7 linked regions of the Homo sapiens genome follow. The protein of the gene in region 5 interacts with the protein of the main gene of each other region in a biochemical or structural test. Each region holds a gene or a part of one and is shown on either strand. Other genes may lie near its edges.

Region 1 (3,500 bases), on a different chromosome or scaffold from region 5:
AAACTGCTAAACCTGTTTCAAAGTTACAAAAATATAAATACTATGTTAAACTCATTTAGATTTTATTCCTCTGCTTTAAAGAAAACAGAAATACAACAAAACCCTTCCCTAGAACCATTAACATACTTACAGACTGATGAATAAAAGGCAGATCTTGTGTAGCTGCTAATCTACTAGAGAAACCTGTGCTCCCATCTGGGATGCCAAAATTCAATGGTTCTCTCTTCTTAATAACAATCTGAAAGATTAATTGAAAAAGAATTATAGGGATCTTTTACAAATCACTACATAAAAATAGACAACCAAAACATTTTCTAATTACTTAAAATATTTCTTCTTAAAATTTATAATGTAAAAACTAAAAAAAAAGTCTGTAAATACCAATTTCCCAGGGAATTGTTGTACAAATCAGTTACATACTAAGAAAAATTGTATTTCACTTTTAAAAATTAATACAGGCCCATTTTCTTTCTTTCTATCCTACTTTCCCCAGACCTCAAAATATAATCAATCACTTTTAGTTACTGTATTAAATAACAACAGGTATCATATCCTGCCAATAGTATTAACAACTCTCTCAGCATGTGAGATACCTATGAATACATTAACTCATTCAGGCCAGTAGCATCAAAATACACTTATATGATATGTTGGTAGCCTCATTTAAAGCATTTCCATTCTAACTAATTTAATAAGGCACTATAGCAATATACTAGGTTCCTACTGAGAGCAGCAGTATACTTCCACAATGCAAGGTATTCATCTATTAAGAAACTCACTTAAAGGATCCTTTAAAAATACACAATTTAATGTGTTTTAGCATTGAGACATTTGGACAACTCAACAACAAAGAATGTAAATGTTATCAACCTAGACAATGTAAATATAAATGTATAGCTGAAATCAGCTGAGAGAAAGAAGGTGAGGAACAACTGTATTAGAAAATGTGAAATAATGTCCTAATTTTTATGAAGTGTGTATGTGTGTGTGTTTATATATATATATGATAAAAATATTTTCTATGTTTGAATAAGAAAGTGAACTTTAAGTGTGTTTTTCTGATATAGCAGAGTGATTAGTGAGGTAGACTGGAATAAAGGAGAGGGAATGGTAGTAAGAAATAAATCTTCATTTACCATAGTATGAATGTCAGTGGACAATGTCTGTTACTGGTAAACAAGAAATGGCAATATAACCATATAGATAGATACGATGACAAACACTTGAAGAAATCCAAACAGAAAATTATTGAGTGGCTGTTTCTTGGAAGAACTGGCTAAGAGTGATGGGTCAGAAGTCTCACTTTTCATTATAAGTTCTTCTACAGTTTTTGATTTAAAAAAAGTACATGTACTATTTTGATAAATAAAAACGAAAATACTCAAGCATTCTGTTTTTTCCAGTAATTCCCTGCATCTCTAAATGATCTTCCATATTCAATTCAAAAGGGATTAAATAATGTATGGATGACTAACACAAACTCACAATTACTCTTAAGTTCTTAGAGTCCTGCATCAGTTTTATAATGGTTACAAACAATAAACTCTACCTATCAGTTTGTAGATATTACTGAAGTACAAACTTGTTAGAACTCTTATCCAATTCACCTTAGTCTCCATGGCAGAGACTGGAGTCTAGAATCTGACATATAGTAGGATTTCGATACATATATAAATATAATTTTAAAAGACTTGGGGTACAACTTACTAGAACTATGTCTAGGTCATTTGAACATATAAAATTCTTACTTAACATGACAGAAAACAAACAACTGATAATTAGAAATATGCTGATAGACTGGATTAAGAAAATGTGGCACATATACACCATAGAATACTATGCAGCCATAAAAAAGGATGAGTTCATGTCCTCCATAGGGACATGGATGAAGATGGAAACCATCATTCTCAGCAAACTATCGCAAGGACAAAAAACCAAACACTGCATGTTGTCACTCATAGGTGGGAACTGAACAATGAGAACACATGGACATAGGAAGGGGAACATCATACACTGGGGCCTGTTGTGGGGTTGGGGGAGAGGGGAGGGATAGCATTAGGGACATACCTAATGTTAAATGACGAGTTGATGGGTGCAGCACACCAACATGGCACATGTATACATATGTAACTAACCTGCATGTTGTGCACATGTACCCTAAAACTTAAAGTATTAAAAAAAAAAAAAGAAATAGGCTTTCTAATAAATGTGAATTGTATCACCTAATTTTAACTATAGGAATCTAAAAAGTAGTTTAATCTCCAAAAGCATAAATCTTAACATACTTTCTGAGTTTTCCTAATAGTTGGTGTCATGTCCTTAAAATAGTCAGGTTCCAGTTGTTCCAAAGAATTTTGTTGTGTTGCCACATTCCCATTCCCTCCTTCGATCTTTACACTGGTGGGTGCATCTTCATCCCAGGAAGTCCACTCTTCAACATCTGTCTAAATTTAATTGATCAACATTATCAGCCACAAAGGGGCAACTTAATGAACACATCATTGATGATTTATTAGAAAAATGGGCTTTCTAAAACACTGGTTTTCAAACTTTTTTAACCCACGGGAAAACATACATTTCATATCACAGATCAAAACTTGATCAAAAGTTCAAAAAATACAAGACATTCTGATATATTCTGTTCTATTTTATTCTATTATGTCCATCAAAAAACAAAAAACAAAGTAAAACGAAAGCAAATGCTCTGAAAACTGAACTGACATTAAAACTACAACTCACAGAAGGGCTGGACATTTTCACCCAAGCCTATCCAGATTGATCATCTGATAAAAAATACCAAGCTTCTCCACAGGATTTAAATAAGATGAAGTCTCAAAACATAGTATTCAAAATGTTCATGAAACAACCCAGAATTATTCAGCATATAAAAACAATACATCTAAATTTGCAAGGCAAGTTAATCAACAGATACCAACACCAAAATGATATGTTGGAATTCTCTAAGGCTTTAAAATAGCTATTATAAAAATGCTCCAACAAACAATAGCAAACACTTGAAACCAATGAAAACACAATAGAAAATGTCAACAAAGAAACAGAAGATAAAATGTAGAACCAAATAGAATTTTCAGACCAGATAAATTTAACAACACAACAAAAATTAATTTCTATTAATGATCTGCAATCCAGTTTTTAAAATATTGTTCTAGGACACTTATTCAATCTTTCAAAACAAAACAAAACAAAAGAACACACAAAAAAAACCTACCTGCTTAGGAACTGATGAATAATCAACTGTAGTTGGCAAAGTTATTTGGTCTCCACTTAATTTCCGTCCTCTGCCAGATCTGAAACAAAAATGAAATAATTTATTTCAAGAACCACCAAAACAAGCAAAGTAAAAGCACTATTATGTATGGTAATTGAAGGCTTATAAAACAAGATCTTTCTCAATTTTATGATTATTGATTTTAGTAACAGTTACTCACTAATTTATGGTAAAAAAAAGTCATAAATCAGACATCCTGTGAATGTTTTTT
Region 2 (3,500 bases), on a different chromosome or scaffold from region 5:
ATTTCAGTGGACTATAATTACAAAACAGGAATCACTGAAGTACAAGGAGGATAGAAATCAGACTTCTGAACTGAGCCAGCAACATCTAAATGACTGGAAATGAGTAGGATGAAATTAATATGGGGCCAAACTGGAGTCTATTACACCCCCATATACACCTAAGTTGCATTTTAAAACAAAGTCATCAGTACAATTTTCATTACAAATAGATGTCAACTAAGGACACCTTATATAAACTCCTCATTGCAATCAAATAATTTATATGGTAAAAGATCTGAAGAACTGTTGCTTTGTAATTTTTTAAAATCTCATATCTGCTATGCTTCATAATAACCTGTTAAGATAATAAGAGGAACCTCTGGTTGCCAGGCACTTAATACCCTATTTATTTTAACTAAACTCATTTTGCATCTTGCTTCCCTCATTTTAACTAAACTCAGGATAAGGCTTACAACCACATTTTTATTTCTTAGTAGTGAAACCACCATTGCAAAATTATAACTGAAATGGTGAAAAAGATCTGACCTAACCAACTCCATCTTGCTTCTAACCTCCAGGTTGTCCTTGTTCATTCCTGGGCATAGGCCATAACTTTGGGAGGAACTTAGTTTATAGTTTAAAACAAAGATGGTAACAGCCCTTTCCCAAAACAAACCTCCTTCTTGCCTGGGGACTAGACTGCCTTTGTAGGACTAACAAATTAGCCACAAGATTGGAAATTAGGGCTTAGGAGTCATGCAGCTGAAAGCTACCAGATTCTGACCCTTACCATCTGTGGCGTCATAGATTCAATGAAACATCATATGTTCTTTGAACCTCTTACTACAGGGTTACCTATAGCATGCACACCAGAATTACTAGTGTGTTTTTTAAAATGCAAACTCCTGAGCCAACTGCATACCTGGAGAATCAGAATCCCTAGGAGTGGGATTAAAGCTCTTGCATGTTTAATAAGCTCCCCAGATGACTGTCATTCGTGCTCAGATCTGAGAGCTTCAGATCTACAGCACACCAATCCACACACACAGGAAAGGCTGTGTGGGGCGGGGGGGGGGGGGGGGGGGAAGGTAAGGCAGATCTAAACCAAAAAAGTTCAAAAGTAAAATTCACATGACAAGATTTTTCATTCTTTCTGGAACAGTCAACCTGCCACCAGAATGGGTCTTCAGTTTTGGTGGGCAACAGATAAATCCAGAGAAAATGTGGTGAGGAATAAATAATCAAGAACTCCTGTTTGCAGGGGTTAAACCAGAGTACTAGATTTAATATTACTCAAATGTTTTCTTGCAGTTTTTATTATCTACCAAAGCAGAATTTTGCTTAAAAAGTTATAATCCACTTAACGAAATGAAATGGTGACTGGATTTCTGCAACCAAGACCACAAACATACCCAAAACAGAAAACAAGACAGAACTCTACAAAATGACATTCAGTTTTGCCTGCTATGAGTTCTACAATTGTTTAAACACTTGTGATCTAAGCTACCTTAATCCTATAGTACACCATCCAGGGAGAGATGGATAGATGAATGAATGGATGGACAGAAAGAAATAGCTATTCTTAGAAACAATGACAACAATAAAATGAAATATATTAACTGTTAGAGGTTGAACATAAATGGGGTAATGAAGTGTCCCACTCATAAACTGCTAAAATGAGATTAGAGAAAGGTACACATTTACATACAGTAGAACTGCTATCTTCATCTCATGTAACTATCTCACATTGTACTAGATGAGAAGTTATAGGTTCCTGTTCTACGTGTTTAAGAATTCCCTTAGGTATCCACTCTACTTATGCTGTTTTGAAGTAGTCTGCAGAATTTAAGTGCACCAGGGTAGACATAATTCCATCAGTCACACCCTCCAAATGAAGACATGGAGAAACAGAATGGTTCCATCGCCCAAGGGTCCTGGATGAAATGCAGTATTGGCACACCATTTGTACCACAAAAACTGAATGAGAATTAGCACTGCTGAAGTAAATTAAAATGGAAACCATGCCTGAAGAATCCCCGAGCAGACAAAACCAATTAGGCCTCATAAGTGACATCAACCTCACTTGATTTGCAAACATAAGCAAAATATGAAGTTACTTCTTATAAATGCCTATGCTAAAGAAAAAGAGAACTTAAGCTTAATCAATCAGAAACATCCAACAAACTTCTAATTACATATCTAGGGGACCTTCCAACACGACAGACCAAATAAAACAACTGTATAACTGCAGCCAATCAAATATTTTCTTTGCTTTACATCTGTGACCCTCCTATAAAAGCCTCCCTCCTGGATTCCCCTGGTGGAGCTCCCAGATCTGGTTTGGAGCTGCTCAATTCATGAATTGTTTGTTCAAATAAACTCTAAAGATGCTTCTATTGTAAAATTTTGTGAAAACGTATTGTATTAGTCCGTTTTTGCACTGTTATAAAGAAATACCCAAGACTGGGTAACCTATAAAGGAAAGAAGTTTAACTGACTCACAGTCCCACATGGCTGGGGAGGTGTCAGGAAACTTACAATCATGGAGGAAGGCTAAGGGGAAACAGACACCTTTTTCACAAGGCAGCAGGAGAGAGAAGAGAGAGAGTGCAGGAAAAACTTCCATTTGTAAAACCATCAGATCTTGTAAGAACTCACTGTCACGAGAACAACATGGGGGAAGCCGCCCTCATGATGCAATCACTTCCCTCCCTCGACACACAGGGATTACAATTTGAGATGAGATTTGAGTGGGGACGCAGAACCAAACCACACCACGTATCAACTGAACCAACTTAAAAATCCATTTTTGTTGACCTTGCGTCTTTCAAAACTCATTTAACAATCACTTAACTGCAAGTAATGAATGATATGTTAGGTAGCACACCTGACACCATAACACTACCTTAGCAAGCCTTGTAGAGATTATGACGAAAATCAATTTAGAGATGTTCATATAACTTTCTGAATAGCACACAAAAATTTAACAAATGAATAAACAAAATGCAGTACGTATCAACGAAATGATATATATGTAATGTGGTGTATATGAATGGAATATAGAATGGAATATTACTCACCCTTAAAAAGGAATGAAGTACTGATACCTGCTGATTTAGAGGACGAACCTCTAAAACATGCTAAGTGAAAGAAGCCAGACACAAAAGAACACATATTGAATTATTCAATTTTTAGGAAAATCCAGAATAGATAAATTTATGGGGGCAGAAAGCAGATCAGTGGTTGCCGAGGATTGGCAGGGAGAAGGGAATGAACAACTGCTTAATGAATATGGGGTTTCCTTTTGGGGTGATGAAAATGTTTTAGAAACGTGACGGTTCATAACATCATGAACGTGCTAAATGCCACACTTTAAAATGGAAAATCTGGCTAGGCATAGGGGCTCATGTCTGTAATCCCAGAGCTTTGGGAGGCTGAGGTCGAAGGATCACCTGAGGGCAGATTTGGCCAGCCTGTGCAAAATAGTAAGATCCCGTCTTTTAAGAAAAAAAATTATAAAA
Region 3 (3,500 bases), on a different chromosome or scaffold from region 5:
AGGATGACAAGTCTTGCTTATCAAAATCTAAGAACCAAAATGATCAATAAGAGGGAAGACACTGTCTTTATTACCAAATCTAAAAGTATTTATGCTTTCCCTTATCTTCTTCACTTGTGTAAATGTAATCAACCAATCCTTTTATTTAAACTGATAGCACTGCAGCCTATTAACCAGCAGTTATTTACCAGGCAACAGGCACTGTGTTACGGTGGCAATTAAGGGTGAACCAAACAGTCTCCATTTAGCCATGGGCTTTTATTTTAGAAGAGCATGCAGTCACCAAACAAATAATTATGAATATGAAAAGTGTTAGTTACTAAGCAGTGGTGCAGGTCCCAGGGGATCATTTAGTAGGGGCCTTTCCTAGTCAGGAAGCAGATGGGGTGGAATTCAGGGAAAGATTCTTGAGAGATGTCTTTTACCCTACATCCAAAGGTTGGGAAGGGACAAACTGATATCCTATTAATGCAACCTCCACTCTGAGCACATCTGGTCCAAGTTCATCTTGTTTCCCTTTCCCAGCCATATTTTCTGTTCTCCTTGGCCTAGCCTCAAAATTACTCTTATCTTAGCAAGGTTTTCTAATGGATTTTAAAACTACTGGCAGGATTATCATCCTAAATCAAAAAAAAACGTGTTCCATGACCATGAACACTCATTTTCACCTTAAGTAAAATAACAGGCTTTATCTAAGATACCTTCCACTGCTAAAATATGTAACTAGAAAATGAACATTAGAGAAAAAAAGGAATCAATAAATGTGTGTGTTCTGACTGCTCCACCAACTAGCCATCCCCAGGGAACAGGGAGGCCTCTCCTCAGGCCTCCCTGTTCCCTGAGACACAACAATACTGAAATTAAGCCTATTAATCCTACTATGGCCTCTAAGTGTGCAAATGAAAACAGTTACAGGTATCTCATTTGAAATCAAAAGCTAGAAACAATAGGTAGGCATAGTGAGGAAGGCACATCTAAAACCGAGATAGGCAGAAAGCTAGGCTTCTTAACCCAAACAGCCAAGCTGTGAATGCAAGGGAAATATTATCAAAAGAAATCAGAAGTGCTACGCCAGTGAACACACAAATGTTAAGAAAGCAAAACAGCCTTACTGCTAATAGGGAGAATGTTTTAGTGATCTGGATAAAAGATCAAATCAGTCACAACATTCCCTTAAGCCAATACCCAATCCAGAACAAGAACCCAACTCTCCTCAATTCTATGAAGGCTCAGAGTTCAGAAGAAAAGTTTGAAGCTAGCAGAGGCTGGTTAATGCAGTTTAAGGAATGAATTCATCACCGTAAGATAAAAGCGCAAGGAGAAGCAGCAAGTGCTGATACAGAAACCATAGCAAATTATCCAGAAGATCTAGCTAAGATAATTAATGGAAGTGACTAATCAACAGATTTTCAATGTAGATGAAACAGCCTTCCCAATACAAAATGTAGATGAAACAGCCTTCCCAATACAAAATGTAGATGAAACAGCCTTCCCAATACAAAACAGTTTGTATTGCTAGTGGTCTGGTTTTTCTAATCTTTTCAAAAAACCAGCTCCTGGATTCATTGATTTTTTTAAGGGTTTTTCGTGTCTCTATCTCCTTCAGTTCTGCTCTGATTTTAGTTATTTCTTGTCTTCTGCTAGCTTTAGAATTTGTTTGTTGTTGCTTCTCCAGTTCTTTTAATTGTGATGTTAGGATGTCGATTTTACACCTTTCTCGTTTTCTCCTGTGGGCATTTAATGCTATAGATTTTCCTCTAAACACAGCTTTAGCTGTGTCCCATAGATTCTGATATGTTGTGTCTTTGTTCTCATTGGTTTCAAATAACTTATTTACTTCTGCCTTAATTTTATCATTTACCCAGTAGTCATTCTGGAGCAGGCTGTTCAGTTTCCATGTAGTTGTGCAATTTTGAGTGAGTTTCTTAATTCTGAATTCTAATTTGACTGCAATTAGAATTGTGGTCTGAGAGACTGTTATGATTTTCTTTTGCATTTGCTGAGGAGTGTTTTACTATTTTAGAATAAGTGCAATATGATGCTGAGAAGAATGTGTATTCTGTTGATTTGGGGTGGAGAGTTCTGTAGATGTCTATTAGGTCCACTTGGTCCAGAGCTGAGTTCAAGTCCTGAATATCTTTGCTAATTTTCTGTCTCGTTTGTCTAATATTGACAATGGGGTGTTAAAGTCTCCCACTATTATTGTGTGGGAGTCTAAGTCTCTTTGTAGGTCTCTAAGAACTTACTTTATGAAACTGGGTGTTCCTGATCCTGGGAGCATGTATATATAGTTAGCTCTTCTTGTTGCATTGATCCGTTTACCATTATGTAATGCCCTTGTCTTTTATGATCTTTGTTGGTTTAAAGTCTGTTTTATCAGAGACTAGGATTGCAACCCCTTTTGTTTTTTTTGTGTTTTTTTTGCTTTCCATTTGCTTGGTAAATGTTTCATGTGTGTCTTTGCATGTGAGATGGGTCTCCTGAATACAGCACACTGGTGGGTTCTAACTATCCAATTTGCCAGTCTGTGTCTTTTAATTGGGACATTTAGCCAATTTACATTTAAGGTTAATATTGTTATGTGTGAATTTGATCCTGTCATTATGATGCTAGCTGGTTATTTTGCTCATTAGTTGATGCTGTTTCTTCATAGTGTCAATCATCTTTACAATTGGTATGTTTTTGCAATGGCTTGTACTGTTTTTTCCTTTCCATATTCAGGGCTTCCTTCAGGAGGTCTTGTAAGGCAGGCCTGGTGGTGACAAAATCTCTCAGCATTTGCTTGTCTGGAAAGGATTTTATTTCTCCTTCGCTTATGAAGCTTAATTTGGCTGGATATGAAATTCTAGGTTGAAAATTCTTTCCTTTAAGAATGTTGAATATTGGTCCCCACTCTCTTCTGGCTTACAGGGTTTCTGCAGAGAGATCTGCTGTTAGTCTGATGGGCTTTCTCTATTTAAAAATTTTAAGTAACAATTCCAGACATTCATCAAAAGATATGCTTATCTTCATGCACCTCCTAAACACCTACTAAAACGGCATCTACAAATAATGAACCCCCTTCCAAATAGAGTGAAGAACCACTAAATTAGAGAAACATCTTTACTGACCTCTAGTAATTTCTAATTCATAATGAAATATATAGACTAGTCACTAAACTCTTAAAAGCACTGATGCTATAAGAAACGTAGAGAGCATCCACAAGCACTAAAAATGCAAGAAACTTAAAAATTGGAAACGTGTACACACAAAAACACAGTATTTTAACTTGTTTTTTATTACTGATAAGCACAAAACAAATTCCAAATGCTGAAATAACCTAATAATCTACCTAGATCAAAATCAAATATTTTATGTGATCAATAAAGGAAATGTAAAATCCAAGAAATTTAGAGTTTAACTGTACCTCAATTGTAAATCCAGTTCAATCTTATTAGTACAGTGTTAAACGATTTACCTAAAGTCACACAGGTAGTAAGAAGCAAATTTAGGCCAAGCTA
Region 4 (2,637 bases), on a different chromosome or scaffold from region 5:
AGGTTGCAGTGAGCCAAGATCACACCATTGCACTCCAGCCTGGGCGACAAGAGTGAAACGCTCTCAAAAAAACATACAAACAAACAAAAAAACAAGTTGTTTTAAGTCACTCAGTTTGGGGCTGCTTGGTTGGGCCGCAAGAGATGAGTGGAACAATGAATGAGACTGGATGTCCTCTGCTACCCAATGACTGGCAACCATGAGCTTCCTGGGTCTGTAATTCCATCAGCTGTCCATCCCTTACCCTGGAAGGGTAGAGGATTTATTCTTTGGGTAGACATAGTTTAAGAGTTTTTTTGTTTTTGTTTTTTGTTTTCAATGAAAAATTGCCAAGCCCTTTGGAGGCCCTGATGGCTCAACCAGGTTGGTGGCTGCTAACGAGAGTGAAGATCTATATTCAGTCCATCTGGCACATGTGCAGAAGACCCTTCTCCAACCCCAGATCATGACTACAAATGGCTATCAGTTGGACAAACATACATCCTGATGAGAAGATATGGTTGGTTCATCACAACCTTTTATTTCACAATATTAATAGTAATCATTATAGCTACCATGTATTAAGCCTTCACCATGGGGCTGTTAAGTCTTCATTGCTTAGCTTTACTAAACTAGATAATGTGTTTGCTTATCTCATGGATTTCTCTTAACCATCCCCTGAGATCCCCCTATAGTTCTTATCCCTTTACCCCCATTTTACAGAAGAGGAAAACTGAGGCTCAGAGAAGGGGAGTCACTTGGCCACAGTCGCACAGTTGGAAAGTGGTAGAGCCAGGATGAGACGCTAATTCTGACTCCAAAGCTAGTTATATATAATAATAGCACCCAAGTAATGTATAGATTACCATGTTTTCACATATGGCAAATTAAGGAATCAGAATGAATGATGCATGCTGCCCAAGCTGGACAGAGGATGGGCCAGGGCACAAGTGACGGCTGACCCACTGATCCATGGAACCCCCAAGAAAGGCTCTAGAACAAAGCTCTGATTTCACAGTGAGATTAAAATTCTGCCCAAATCAGGGTACATGGGTGGAATTAATCAAAAAAGTTAGTATGTATGCCTTTCACCCCAGCAATTCTACTTCTCATTTTGCAGAGACTCACTCATACAGTGGCATCAAGAGGTTATATGTGCAGGAGAACGTCCACTGCAGCTTTGCCAGTAGCGATGAAAACTGCTAACAGCCTAAGGGCCTAGCCAAAGTGGAATGCTCAAAAAAGATGGTTTGCTCTAGAACAGGCAGCTGGTAAAAGGAGTGGTGTTAGATCAGCACATGTTCACATCAGAAATGCTCCAGGAGCCAGGTGCGGTGGCTCACGCCTGTAAACCCAACTCTTTGAGAGGCTGAGGAAGGATTGCTTGAGCCCAGGAGTTTGAGACCAGCCTGGGCAACATAGTGATTCCCCTCTTTACAAAAAATAAAAAGTTAGGTAGGTGTCATGGTCCAGCTACTCAGGAGGCTGAGGTGAAAGGACTGCTTGAGCCCAGGAGTTAGAGGTTGCAGTGAGCTGTGTTTGCAGGAGTTAGAGGTTGCAGTGAGCTGTGTTTGCAGGAGTTAGAGGTTGCAGTGAGCTGTGTTTGCAGGAGTTAGAGGTTGCAGTGAGCTGTGTTTGCAGGAGTTAGAGGTTGCAGTGAGCTGTGTTTGTGCCACTGCACTGCAGCCTGAGCAACCAAGCGGGACTCTGTCTCCAAAACAAACAAACAAACAATCCTCCAGAGCAATCTGTTAAATTACATTTTGGAATAACCTATTCAAAATGGTTTTTTCCATACGTCTTTAAGATGATAATATTTATATGTTCAAAAATTTAAAGTCTGGAAGACTATGTACAAACAGAAAATGGTAGCATTACCTTTAGGAGCTATTGAGAGGAAGTACAAATAGAGCCACTTGCCTTCTTACTATCAATTCTGATTGTCCCATGTTTTATAATATATTCATGTAGTACTCTAAACAAAATCTTTTCAGATCAAATCAGGGGAGATGAAATGAGAGTGGATTCTGAGCCTAGTTTTTTTCAGGGAACAAGACCCAGTGCTACCACTTAGGGGCTAGAAACAGAAATTGTATTTATTTTATTTTGTTTTATTTATTTTATTTTTGAGATGGAGTCTCACTCTGTTGCCCAGGCTGGAGTGTACTAGCATGATCTTGGTTCACTGCAACCTCTGCCTCCTGGGTTCAAGCAATTCTCCTGCCTCAGCCTCCCAAGTAGCTGCAACTACAGGCATGCGCCACGACGCCCAGCTAATTTTTGTATTTTTAGTAGATGGGGTTTCGCCACGTTGGCCAGGCTGGTCTGGAACTCCTGACCTCAGCTTATCTGCCCACCTCAGCCTCCCAAAGTGCTGGGATTACAAGCATGAGCCACCGGGCCCGGCCTCTTTATTTTCTTTCAGTGTTTTCCCAGGAAGTTCTCTGAACATCCAGGGTCTTCACAGATGGACTTCTCATAAAAGGTAACTCCTGGAACCAGACATAAATTTTTTTTTTGGGGTGTGTGGTGATGGGATACATAGCTGTCGCCAGATTCTCAAAGGGACAGTGTCACACTTAACAGAGCAAGGAGAGTAATCGGTGATTGGTGAATGATCATTTATCAGAGACTGTGTGTCAAACATTTAAAAAATAA
Region 5 (3,500 bases):
AGGGTGCGCCTATAGTCCCAGCTATTCAGGAGACTGAGGAGGGAGGATTGCTTGAGTTCAGGAGGTCGAGGTTGCAATGAGCCATGATCACACCACCACACTCCAGTCTGGAAGACAAAGCTAGGCCCTGTCTCAAAAGAAAAAAAGTACAATCAAATAGTTTAATGAACTTCAAAAGTAATTTCTGAGATCCTGTATATCTCATACCTGTGTTTAAACACCTGAAAAAAATAGATAAAAATTCAAAACTTCAAAAAATATGAAGGAAATATCATTTGTCTTAGAAACAACGAAAATTCATTAAAAACTCAGAAGCCTTTATTATATTTTAAATTACTAAAACTCAGCACATCTGGAAATTCTGAATACTTGTTGACTGAATTTCTGATTTACAGATTTGATATGTAGAGATGGTGGACATCACCACACGTATAGAAAGGAAAACAATTTTTGTTAAGTTATACATCTTCATCACTATTATACTTCAAAGTAGTGACCTTGGGAACCTTATTCCAAAAATGGAAAACATCTTTGGAGCCTGTGTAAAAGCCACACAAAAGTCAGTTCTATCATTTTGGTTAATCTTAAGTATTTTACCCCATTACATATTATTTACCTCAAGTACCTACTTATTTTTCAAGACATAGAGTTAAGTTACTGTATTACAGTTCTTGTCTACAAGCATTAGAAACATTAGTAACTGACTCTGGCTATCTTTAAAAAGCAACTTTACTGGAAGGCTGTTGAAACTCACAACACTGAAAGATGACTGGAAAATCAGACTGGAAAAAAACAGTGCCAACAGACCAGAGAAAGCAGCTCAAAGAACCATGCCAAAGAACAGTCTGATCCACACGCTGACATGACTCTGGAAAGGTCTCCAAAAAACCCTACAGCTCGTTATTCTCTCAAGATCCAAAGCCCTGAAAGAAAACATATGATTGGACAAGTCTGGCTGCATGACAAAACAGCAGGGGAATAATATGCTTCAAGAGTGCATCCTAGAGCCGGTCGCAGTAATCCCAACACTTTGGGAGGCTGAGGCGGGAGGATCACTTGAGGCCAGGAGTTCGAGGCTGCAGTGAGCTATGATCTCGCCACTGTACTCTAGCCTGGCGACACAGCACAATCTGTCTTAAAACAAAAACCAAAAAACACAACAACAAAAAAAAAAACAGGTGCGGTGGCTCATGCCTCTAATACCTGCACTTTGGGAGACTGAAGCGGGAGGATCACTTGATCCCAGGAGTTCAAGACCAGCCTGAGCCATGTGGTGAAATCCCTGTCTTTATAAAAAAAAAATTTTTTTTTAATTAGCTGGGCATGGTGGTGTGTGCCTGTGGTCCTAGCTCCTCGGGAAGCTGAGGCAGGAGGATCACTTTAGCCCAAGAGGTTGAGGCTGCAGTGAGCCAAGATCGCACCACTGCACTCCAGCCTGGGTGACAAAGAAAGACCCTGTCTCAAAAACAGGCAACACACTATGGGGAAACCCTAAAGTAATACAAAATAAAGCGAAGACCTGGGGAGGAGTTAATAAACATCCACAGCAGTACAATCAGAACCATCATATGGAATGACTACTTTTCCATTATACATGAAAACACTGAAGCTCAGAAGGCTTAAATTATATGTAAAAGCCAAAGAATACACTTTGGACAGGACTATAGAGCCTCTCTCTGCTTCTGCTGTTCCATAGGCATACTCCAAATTATACTTGGCCACTGAAAATAATTAAATCTAACCTTAAAAGACTAAGATTTGCCACCAATGAAGACATTCAAACATATATGACACCAGTTATTTGTGGTAATTCTCAATAAAGCATCCTGAAAATATTCTATGGAAAGCATCTATAGAATAAACACACACAGGGAAAGGAAAATACCTGGCACTTTTGCTGTCCCTCCCCCTCAAACACTGGGTCAATTAAAGAAATACTGCTAATTACTTGGCAGTTGAATTTAGGTGTAAACTATCTGCCATCCTTACTGTGGTCTTTAAAGAGTTACTTAAATACTTATGCACTGATTCTCTGCCCAAGTGAGCATGAAAATCTTCTGAGGGGACTAGCCATCCCTGTTTTATAAAAGCAAAAAACAAATATCATTGGTTAAAAAAAAAAAATCTGAAATGTGTAAAGAAAAAAAAAAAAATCAATCACAATGACTTTAGACTCACTCCTAACAGGTAATCTGAAGCCAGACCATCTGCTTATTCAAAAACTGAACCTTCTGTTCAGCAAAAAAGAGAGGGAGACTTGACTCAGAATATGTCAAAGTAATTTTTTAAATATTATAGATTATAAACATGTTAAAAATAAATTGGTAAGACAATAAGAACAAAGGACAATCTCACACGATATGGATGAATCTCACATTGAACAAAAAGCAGACACAAAGTACAAAAAACTAGGCAAAATTAATCTATGCTGAATTCTAATATTAAGCCAGTGGTTACCCCTGAGGAATGGGTAGTGACTGGAAAGATACTCAAGTGGAGGGCTAGGGCTTCTGTTTCTTGCTCTAGGTACTGGTTTAACAAGTATATTCACATAAGGTTATTAGCTCACATATATAAAATATTTCCAACATTAATGATTTGCTTAAATGTAAAGTTTAGCTTTTAAAGTTCTTAGGAGAATCCAGACATTAAAAAGATAAATGCTGAAGTAAAAATCAGTTAAAGCAATGAGTTAGCATAAACGCCTGGGCTCAGGGTAAGACAGCAATTCCTGCCTCCTAAAAAGAGTACTATAGGTTAAAAACATGGTGGCGAGCCTCCCAAGGGAAAAACATACCAACAGATAAGTTGACAGGGCTGGTTATTAGAGTGTAAAGACATGATGAGTTGGCTTGATGGCATGCACCTTGTATTCCCAGCTACTCAGGGCGGATCACTTGAGCCCAGGAGTTTGAGTGCAGCCTGGGCAACATCTTGAGACCTCCATCTCTTAAAAAAAAAAATTTTAAAGATGTGATGAAAGGAAAAAATATATAGGCTAATCCCTAAAACCAAAACCTAAAGCAATACAAAATCCCAGTAGTCTCAACCCCACCCCTCAACTCTCTGGACTTGCCTAAAAAAAAAGAGAAAAAATTTCCCCATGTGGTTGCTGAAATCAGGAAGAAATGCTCACAATAAGCTAGCAAGCATCTGGACCTTAGCCATGACTAGCAAAGTATAATGAGTGACTCTTGATGCAAAATAAACAGAACACATGGTTTCAATTACCCGCCAAATAACTTTAAATTGTTTAAATTATGTGAGTATGGTTAAACTTCAACAAATTATTTAGATTATCTTCTTAAGACCCAATCACCGAAAAACAGCATGTTAATATGCTTCACCTTAAACATTTAGAGCAAGGGTGTCCAACCTTTTGGCTTCCCTGGGCCACACTGGAAGAACTGTCTTGGGCCATATATAAAATACACTAACACTAGCAATAGCTGATGAGCTTTAAAAAAAAAAAATTGCAAAAAAAATTTCATAATGTTTTA
Region 6 (4,285 bases), on a different chromosome or scaffold from region 5:
AGGGTATGCTGTGGAAATGTTAAGAAGAGAAAGGTTTAAATATGTTGACATAAAAGAAATCTTAGCTAGGTTTGTGCTTTGGACTGAATGTTTGTCCTCCTCCTGCCCAGCCAAAATTCGTGTTATAAATCCTAATCTCCAATATGATGGTATTTGGAGATGGGGTCTTTGGAAGGTAATCAGGTCATAAGGGTGCAGACCTCAGTAATGCATGTTCTTTATTAGTGTCCTTATAAGAAAAGACAGGAGAGATCACTTCTCTTCTCTGCTTTCTCACATGTAAACCGGAAAGAGAGCCCTCACCAAAACTTGACCATGCTGGCACCCTGATCTGGAACTTCCAGCTTTCAGAATTTTGAGAGATAAATGTGTCTGTTGTTTAAGCCACCTAGTCTTTGAGAATGTGTTACAGCAGCTCAAGTAGACTAAGACCAGAAGGGAGAAATGCAAACTATATCAGTGCAAATTACAGAAAAATGTACAGAGATATGACCATTTTATTTTTAATGTGGAGTATAATTTAGTGAAGGAGAAAAGAAGGGTATGGGGATGGCAATTTCCTGTTTTGATATCTACACTTCTGCAAAGATCATTACTTTTATAATCATAATTAAGCATTTGATTCAACACTGAGTCTTGTGTTAGACACTGGGAAGGTGAACATGACAGTCAGGGCACCTGTTAAGTCCATTTTTAAATTTGTGATTTAAGTTGCTATAGCTATAATAAATTAAATGATGTATATATATATCTGTTTGTGGATTTTGGCATCTATCTCTCTCTGCATTGTGGTGCCAGGGCCATGTTATTTTCATTATGAAAGCTTTATAACAGGTTTTAATATCTGACTAGGCAAATTCTCTCTCATTACCCAGGATGATAATTTTCTAGGCCTTTAAAAATTAATTTTATTGAGGTGCAGTTTACATACAGTACAATGCACCACTTAAATATATATATATTTCGATGAGTTTTGTCAAATTTATACGCCCATATAACCATCAAAATAAAAAATTGACCAAAGTATCCAAAAGATCATTTGGAATTAGAACTAGTAAAAATTAACAGAAAATACTCGCTATAGTGCAACACGTGACAAAGAATTACTACTTCAATGTGTAATACACATAAAGTGTTTAAAAGTCAGGAGGAGAAAGATACTCCAACTGAAAAATGGGCAGAAGAATTAACAATCAACTCACCTACAGAAATGCAAAAGGCTACTACACAGAGGAAAAAGTGTTAATTCCCATGGGTAATCAAAGACATGCAAATTAAGACAAGATACCATTTTTTGGTCCACGCTTTTGATTTAAAACTTCAAATGTGTATACATAGAGAAAATTTTAAGATATGCAGAAAATCTAAACCATCTAGAAGTTGAAGTTTTAAGTTATTTTTATTTTGCTTCTCCTTTGGATTTTTGTTTACTGGATGTTTTCTAATATGTGTATCCTTACAACATTCTAATAATTCTAATAATGTTGATTTTCTCTTCTCACCTCATAAAGTACCTAGTGCAGTGCATTCTAGAAATTCACCCCTAAAAAAAAAAGCTATTTCCCCTATAGAAGGAGAAACACACACATGCACGCGCACACACACCCGCATGTGTTGCTAATGGTCCGCATGGTGAGATCATCATTGGAGCCGCCCTGCGGTCCCCCGGAGAGAGCCTGGGCCGAGCAGAGGATGCGGGTCACAACGACCCTGCAGGAGCTCACGCCCCAAGACACCGCGAGCGCAGTGCGACACTAGCGACGCCGGAGCCAAGGGCCAGAAAGAGGGCGAGACACACCCAGGTGGATCTAATTAACCCTCCCTCTTGGAAAAAGAATGGGGGACGATGTCCAGGGCCCTGGATCTAGTGTCTGTCGCTGACCTTGGGCAGTCCCTGCCACGCTTGAGCCTCAGTTTCCCACCCGTAGGCCGAGCTGACCGTCTCCATCGCTGCGCTCCTTCCCTTCTGCTGGTTTTTCCTGGTCCTGGGAGGGACGCCTTCCTCTGCCCAGTCGCCCTCCCCCAGCCCTTGGCTGCGAGGTCGCCCGCAGAAACCCAACACTGCTGCCGCGCTCTCGGCGCGCCCGGCGAACCTAAGGTGTGGACGCGCCGCGAGGGTCCCCTGCTTGCGGGCGGCCATTAGGCGCCAGGCCCCTTGGCGCTTCGGCCCTGCTAGGCTCGGCGAGGGTCTTACCCAGACTGGCACGCGCCCCGCTCGCGTCCTTCTATTGACCTGTCAGCGCAGCTGGCGCAGGCAAGGGCCAGGGAGGCGCCCCCGAGACACTCAACCATCCCCGCACTGATGCGGGCCCCTGCTGCCCTGGGGACCCCTGCGGGGTCCTCGCAATCCTCCGGCAGGAAGCGGTCGGAGCTGCGGGCAGGGCCGCTAGGCAACCCGCCTGCCCGAGGCGCACTGCCCGGGGCACAGGCCCTCTGCGATGACTCTCCCCAACCCCCAGCTGCCCTGCTTGTGCCAGCTGTGGCCACCCCTAATCCTTGTCCCCTCGCTCTAGTGTCCAGGGCTCCGACCACCGCGCCAGAAGGGCTGGGCAGATCGTGCGCAACAGAAACCTACCCGGTTGGGGCGACCAGCTCGGTCCCCTGCGCGCGCCGAGGGCCGCCTCTGGTATTGCCCAGGCTGGCTAGCTCATCCCGGTGGAGGCGCCATCTCCGGGGCCCGGAAGGAGCGGGCGCAGCGCGGTTTGGGTGTGCGCCGGAGCCTCACCTCCTCCCGCCTCGCAGCTCAGGCGCAGGGCTCCCCTTGCTCAGGCGGGCCATGTGACCCGCGAGCTGCGGAGAGACCGCGGCCCCCAAAGCGGCTTGGGGAAAAAGGACGGCAAAAGGCGCCAACTGATGGGCAGCCAGGGAAAAGCAGGAGTCGCCCCCAAGTCACGCAAACAGGAAGCCTGTTTCTTTTGTGAGGGGACTAGAAGCCAGCATTATATTTCATCAGGTGTGTACATAGAGACTTATTCACACCAATGGAACGATATCTCTCAATGCGTGTAAACGCTTCATGAGAAAGCTGTTACTTTGGGTCTTGAATGTTTTTCAGTCTTCCCCAAACCCTCAATTTAAACACAAACGGCCACGAGAGACATAACGCCTGAGGTATGAGAAAGTATGCACATTGATTGAGAACAATCCCGGCAAAGCAAATAGGAAAAAGATACGGAATGATCCGAGGGAGGAAAAATGTGGGGGTCAAAAGAAAAGTAACAGCCTCCTACATTCCACCTTGGACTTTCCCTTCTGAATGGGTTTTCAGCACACAATTGTACGGCCTTACTCAGTGCTTCTAATCCTAGGTTTGCCTGTCTAGGCCACAGGTTAGCAACTACAGTTTGCTGCCTGTTCTTGTACAGCCCACAAGCTAAGAATGTTTTTTGCAATATTTCATGGTTAAAAATGGAAGAATATTTCAGGGCTACGAAAATTATATGAATTCAAAATTTGATGATCGTAAACAAAGTTTTACTGCAACATAGTCATCATTTACATATTGTCTATGGCTGCTACCATGAAAGAACAGCAGAGTTGGATAGTTGTGACAGAGACCTTATGACCCACAAAACCTAAAATATTTACTGCCTGATTTGCCAACACCTGCTCTAAAAGGTCTGTTCAGTGGTCACAAGATAAAGCATTAAAGCCAGTAAATGCTCATATGATTTCTTCTTGTGTAAGTAAAATTGATACTAGATATTAACTTCCTTTAGAACCTTACAAACACCCACCTGAGCCCCCATTCATCATCTACTCTTTCAGCCAGCATTTACTGAAGAATGGTTCTGACATACTGCCATCACTATAGATGACAATGAAGTAAGAATGAGGTGTGGATCCTTCACTCAAGGAATTTGTCATTAGGAATGCTGGAAAACCTATATCTGAGGCTGGAAAGTATGAGAGCTGGATATAGCACAGAAAGGGAGCTTGGGAAGGTAGTTTCATTTCCTGGGAGAAAAAATGGGAGTCTGATATTCCGAAATTGGAGGATTGTAACCAACACAAGTTGAATTCAGTTCACTGTCATTGGCTCAGTGCTGGGGTCTAATCTATTTACTGGCTATGACAAATTAACTCCTCTGTGCCTCAATGTTCTCATCTATATATTGGGGACAGTGATATTTCCCTCATAGGTTTGTTGAGAGGTTTACATGAGATAATGTATATAAAGTGCTTAGCATTCTACCTGTCAAAATATCTAGCTTTCTATAAATGGTTGGTAGTTATTCACTTGTTTAACAAAAATTCATTGAGTACCTATTATGATGTTCCAGGC
Region 7 (3,500 bases), on a different chromosome or scaffold from region 5:
GTTATTTTCACACACTCTGGAAAAGGACACCTTCCCAGATGTGTGGTGCCATTTGGAATGTGCCTTTCAACTGAGAAGGTCGCCTTTTGGCTAAAATTCCTCCAGGTGTAACATCGATGATACAAATTAAGCAGACACAGCCTCTTTACAAGGCAGTAACTGCAAACCGTAGAGGGTTCTGAAGCTGTGCGCCCACACCATAGACAGTGACTGGTCCTGGCCCTTGGAAAAACCTGGAGGCTCTTTCCCCTCTTCCTCCTGTGATTGGTGGAGGAACAGCTCCCCGAGATGTCCACGTCCTACCTTCTGAGCCTGTGAATATGTTACATTACATGGCAAAGGGGAATTAAGGTTGCTGATCAGCCGGCCTTAAAGTAGTGAGATGATCCTGGATTTTCCCAGGGAGCCCAGTGTAATCACAGGGTCCTTAAGAACAGAAGAGGGAAGCAGAAGAGCCGGAGGGAGATGATGGCCAAGAGCCTTGGGGAAGTGCAGTGGGCGGGCTTTGGAGGGGGAGGAGGGGCCACCAGGCAGGGAATGTGGGTGCCTCCAGAAGCTGGAAGAGGCATGAGAATGGAGCCATGGCCCGTGTGAGGCTTCTGTCCCACAGGACGGTGCCTGCTGCCTGCCGTGTGCTGGATACTAGGGGCGGGGACAGGTGCAGAAGTCAGTCAGATCCTGAGCTTGACCTTTAAGGAGCGTGCTGTCTGTGGAGGCAGGATGGCCTAACCAGACTCCCTGTGACCTTCTTCCTTTCTGGTTTCCTTGTACTGCCCACCCCCGAGGAGATTTGCCGTGGAATTTGCAGGTACAATAGTTAGCCTTGCAAGTGCCAAAGCAGGAATCAGGTAACGTTTTCAAGGAGTCTGGCCCATAGCAGGCATTAATAAGTGTTTCTTTGAGATGCGCCACCCGTGTTCTCTCAGGCGCTGTTAGCATGAGTGTGTGAAGGCCTTGGCTTCTGCCTTGGCTGTGCTGAAGAGTCTGTAGGTCAGTGGGGTTTGCTCTTTACCATGGCAGTGAACACAGTGGGCACTCTGAGGCCTGCCTGCCTGCTCTCTGGGTGTGGGAAGGGAAAGGAAGGTAGCTCTTCTCCAGAGATAAGGGGTTGGCGCACCTGCCACCTGCCTACCCGTCCCTTCCAAGGAGGTGGGGGCTAGGATGTGGCGGCCTCTTAACAGGATGATGTGGCTTCCTGCCCTGCCTGGATCCTGAAAGGGAGGAGCCTGGCAGCCCTCAGTAAACCTGCTGGTTCTGCCACCTGTCCTATTCCACTCCTGCAGGAAGCTGGAGAAACAAACCCTCTTGGCTGTCTGCTGTCCAGGGAGTCGCCACTCCCTTCATTATAGCCTTGCTCAGAGTGCAGCGGCAGGCCTGGGGATGGCCTCGGGAGGTAGGTGGCCCCTGAGCCCTTCTCCTGGGAAAGGGCAGCAGCAGGGAGACGCCTCCTGGGTGTGCACAGAGAAAAGCACAGTTTCCCTAACTCCCCGCTCCCTAACTCCTCGCTCTTTAACTCTCACCTCCCTAACTCCCCCCTCCCTAACTCCCTTCTCCCTAACTCCCCTCTCCCTAACTCCCTTCCCTAACTCCCCTCTCCTTAACTCCTCTCCCTAACTCCCCCCTCCCTAAATCCCCTCTCCCTAACTCCCTTCTCCCTAACCCCCCTCTCCCTAACTCCCCTCCCTAACTCCCCCTTCCCTAACCCCCCTCTCCCTAGCTCCCCTCTCCCTAACTCCCTTCTCCCTAACTCCCCTCCCTAACTCCCCTCTCCCTAACCCCCCTCTCCCTAACTCCCATCTCCCTAACTCCCCCCTCCCTAACTCCTTGCTCCATAACTCCCCCCCAGCTCCCCTCTCCCTAACTCCCCTCCCTAACTCCCCTCTCCTTAACTCCTCTCCCTAACTCCCCCCTCCCTAAATCCCCTCTCCCTAACTCCCCTCCCTAACTCCCCTCCCTAACTCCCCCTTCCCTAACCCCCCTCTCCCTAGCTCCCCTCTCCCTAACTCCCTTCTCCCTAACTCCCCTCCCTAACTCCCCTCTCCCTAACCCCCCTCTCCCTAACTCCCATCTCCCTAACTCCCCCCTCCCTAACTCCTTGCTCCATAACTCCCCCCCAGCTCCCCTCTCCCTAACTCCCCTCTCCCTAACTCCCCTCCCTAACTCCCCTCTCCTTAACTCCTCTCCCTAACTCCCCCCTCCCTAACTCCCCTCTCCCTAACTCCCCTCCCTAACTCCCTTCTCCCTAACCCCCCTCTCCCTAACTCCCCCCTCCCTAACTCCCCTCTCCCTAACTCCCCTCCCTAACTCCCCTCTCCTTAACTCCTCTCCCTAACTCCCCCCTCCCTAACTCCCCTCTCCCTAACTCCCCTCCCTAACTCCCTTCTCCCTAACCCCCCTCTCCCTAACCCCCCTCTCCCTAACTCCCCTCCCTAACCTCCCTCTCCCTAACTCCCCTCTCCCTAACTCCCCTCCCTAACTCCCCCCTCCCTAACTCCTCTCCCTAACTGTCCTCTCCCTAGCTCCCCTCTCCCTAACTCTCCTCTCCCTAACTCCCCTCCCTAACCTCCCTCTCCCTAACTCCCCTCTCCCTAACCCCCCTCTCCCTAACACCCCTCCCTAACTCCCCCCCAACTCCTCTCCCTAACTCCCCTCTCCCTAACTCCCCTCCCTAACTCCCCTCCCTAACTCCCCTCTCCCTAACTCCCCCTCCCTAACTCCCCACTCACTAACTCCCCTCTCCCTAACTCCCCTCTTCCTAACTCCCCTCCCCAATTCCCCCCTCCCTAACTCCCCCCCAACTCCCTACTCCCTAACTCCCCGCTCCCTAACTCCCAGCTCCCTCACTGGTGGCTCCCCTGCGCTCTGGGAGTGTCCTGTGGGATGGACAGATGCCTCCGTGGTGCCTTGCAAGCCTTGCAGGTGGTTATTCCTCCTGTGAGTGCTCCTGTGAGTGCTCTCCAGGCAGCAGCAGGGGTCCTGTCCCTGTAGGCCCCTGAGTCTGGGAGATAGCTGGTTTGCAGCCCCACTGAACAGGAGAGCCTGGCTGGCCACAGAACCCATGACTTTGCTGTAGTCCCTGAGTCCTCTTGTTGCTGATTATCTAAAATCAAACCATTACTCTGCAGGCACTGGGTTTGTCAATCTTTTCACAATAAAGCGAGCATTTAAACTGCTTAAGCTTTGAGGGGTGTAGGGAGAAGCCTCACACGAGCCCCTTCTGGAAAGGACTTTGTCCATCTTGTGTCTTACCCTCGCCGGTTCATTTCTGTTGTTTCTGGCTGGCAACAAACAAAAGAGCCCCCCCACCCCCCACCCCCGAAAAAGAACCCAGCTTTTTAAAGAACATGCAAACTCTTGCCTGCAGCAGGCGCCGGCAGCCAGGCACCCCGGCAGCCAGTGGTAGCTCATACACCAGCATGGGCTGTGGCAAAGGCATCTGATTTGAAATTTTTTTGCAAAATAAAATAATTCCTTGGGGTCCTGAAGGAGAGATGAAGCCC

Evidence for each region.
Region 1: the proteins of GOLPH3 (region 5) and EBAG9 form a complex in vitro, tested with the Homo sapiens proteins (one study listed by BioGRID).
Region 2: the proteins of GOLPH3 (region 5) and FAM3C form a complex in vitro, tested with the Homo sapiens proteins (one study listed by BioGRID).
Region 3: the proteins of GOLPH3 (region 5) and DIPK2A form a complex in vitro, tested with the Homo sapiens proteins (one study listed by BioGRID).
Region 4: the proteins of GOLPH3 (region 5) and TPST2 form a complex in vitro, tested with the Homo sapiens proteins (one study listed by BioGRID).
Region 6: the proteins of GOLPH3 (region 5) and PGAP4 form a complex in vitro, tested with the Homo sapiens proteins (one study listed by BioGRID).
Region 7: the proteins of GOLPH3 (region 5) and CANT1 form a complex in vitro, tested with the Homo sapiens proteins (one study listed by BioGRID).

What each region holds. Positions count from the first base shown.
Region 1 is NC_000008.11:109,553,673-109,557,172, reverse strand, and holds part of EBAG9 (receptor-binding cancer antigen expressed on SiSo cells), read right to left. Parts: intron 3,309-3,500; coding exon 3,230-3,308; intron 2,445-3,229; coding exon 2,286-2,444; intron 239-2,285; coding exon 131-238; intron 1-130. UniProt on the Homo sapiens protein: May participate in suppression of cell proliferation and induces apoptotic cell death through activation of interleukin-1-beta converting enzyme (ICE)-like proteases.
Region 2 is NC_000007.14:121,389,809-121,393,308, forward strand, and holds part of FAM3C (protein FAM3C precursor), read right to left. Parts: intron 3,120-3,500; exon of another isoform or gene 3,060-3,119; intron 1,554-3,059; exon of another isoform or gene 1-1,553. UniProt on the Homo sapiens protein: May be involved in retinal laminar formation. Promotes epithelial to mesenchymal transition.
Region 3 is NC_000003.12:143,981,823-143,985,322, reverse strand, and holds part of DIPK2A (divergent protein kinase domain 2A isoform a precursor), read right to left. Parts: intron 1-3,500. UniProt on the Homo sapiens protein: May play a role in cardiomyocyte proliferation through paracrine signaling and activation of the PPI3K-AKT-CDK7 signaling cascade.
Region 4 is NC_000022.11:26,521,496-26,524,132, forward strand, and holds the end of TPST2 (protein-tyrosine sulfotransferase 2), read right to left. Parts: 3' UTR 501-2,637; downstream 1-500. UniProt on the Homo sapiens protein: Catalyzes the O-sulfation of tyrosine residues within acidic motifs of polypeptides, using 3'-phosphoadenylyl sulfate (PAPS) as cosubstrate.
Region 5 is NC_000005.10:32,167,820-32,171,319, forward strand, and holds part of GOLPH3 (Golgi phosphoprotein 3), read right to left. Parts: intron 1-3,500. UniProt on the Homo sapiens protein: Phosphatidylinositol-4-phosphate-binding protein that links Golgi membranes to the cytoskeleton and may participate in the tensile force required for vesicle budding from the Golgi.
Region 6 is NC_000009.12:101,484,374-101,488,658, forward strand, and holds the start of PGAP4 (GPI-N-acetylgalactosamine transferase PGAP4), read right to left. Parts: upstream 2,801-4,285; 5' UTR 2,576-2,800; intron 2,398-2,575; exon of another isoform or gene 2,195-2,397; intron 2,096-2,194; exon of another isoform or gene 1,883-2,095; intron 1-1,882. UniProt on the Homo sapiens protein: Golgi-resident glycosylphosphatidylinositol (GPI)-N-acetylgalactosamine transferase that catalyzes the N-acetyl-beta-D-galactosamine transfer from an UDP-N-acetyl-alpha-D-galactosamine to the 4-OH-position of the first mannose of the glycosylphosphatidylinositol (GPI) of a GPI-anchored protein (GPI-AP).
Region 7 is NC_000017.11:79,003,265-79,006,764, reverse strand, and holds part of CANT1 (soluble calcium-activated nucleotidase 1), read left to right. Parts: intron 1-3,500.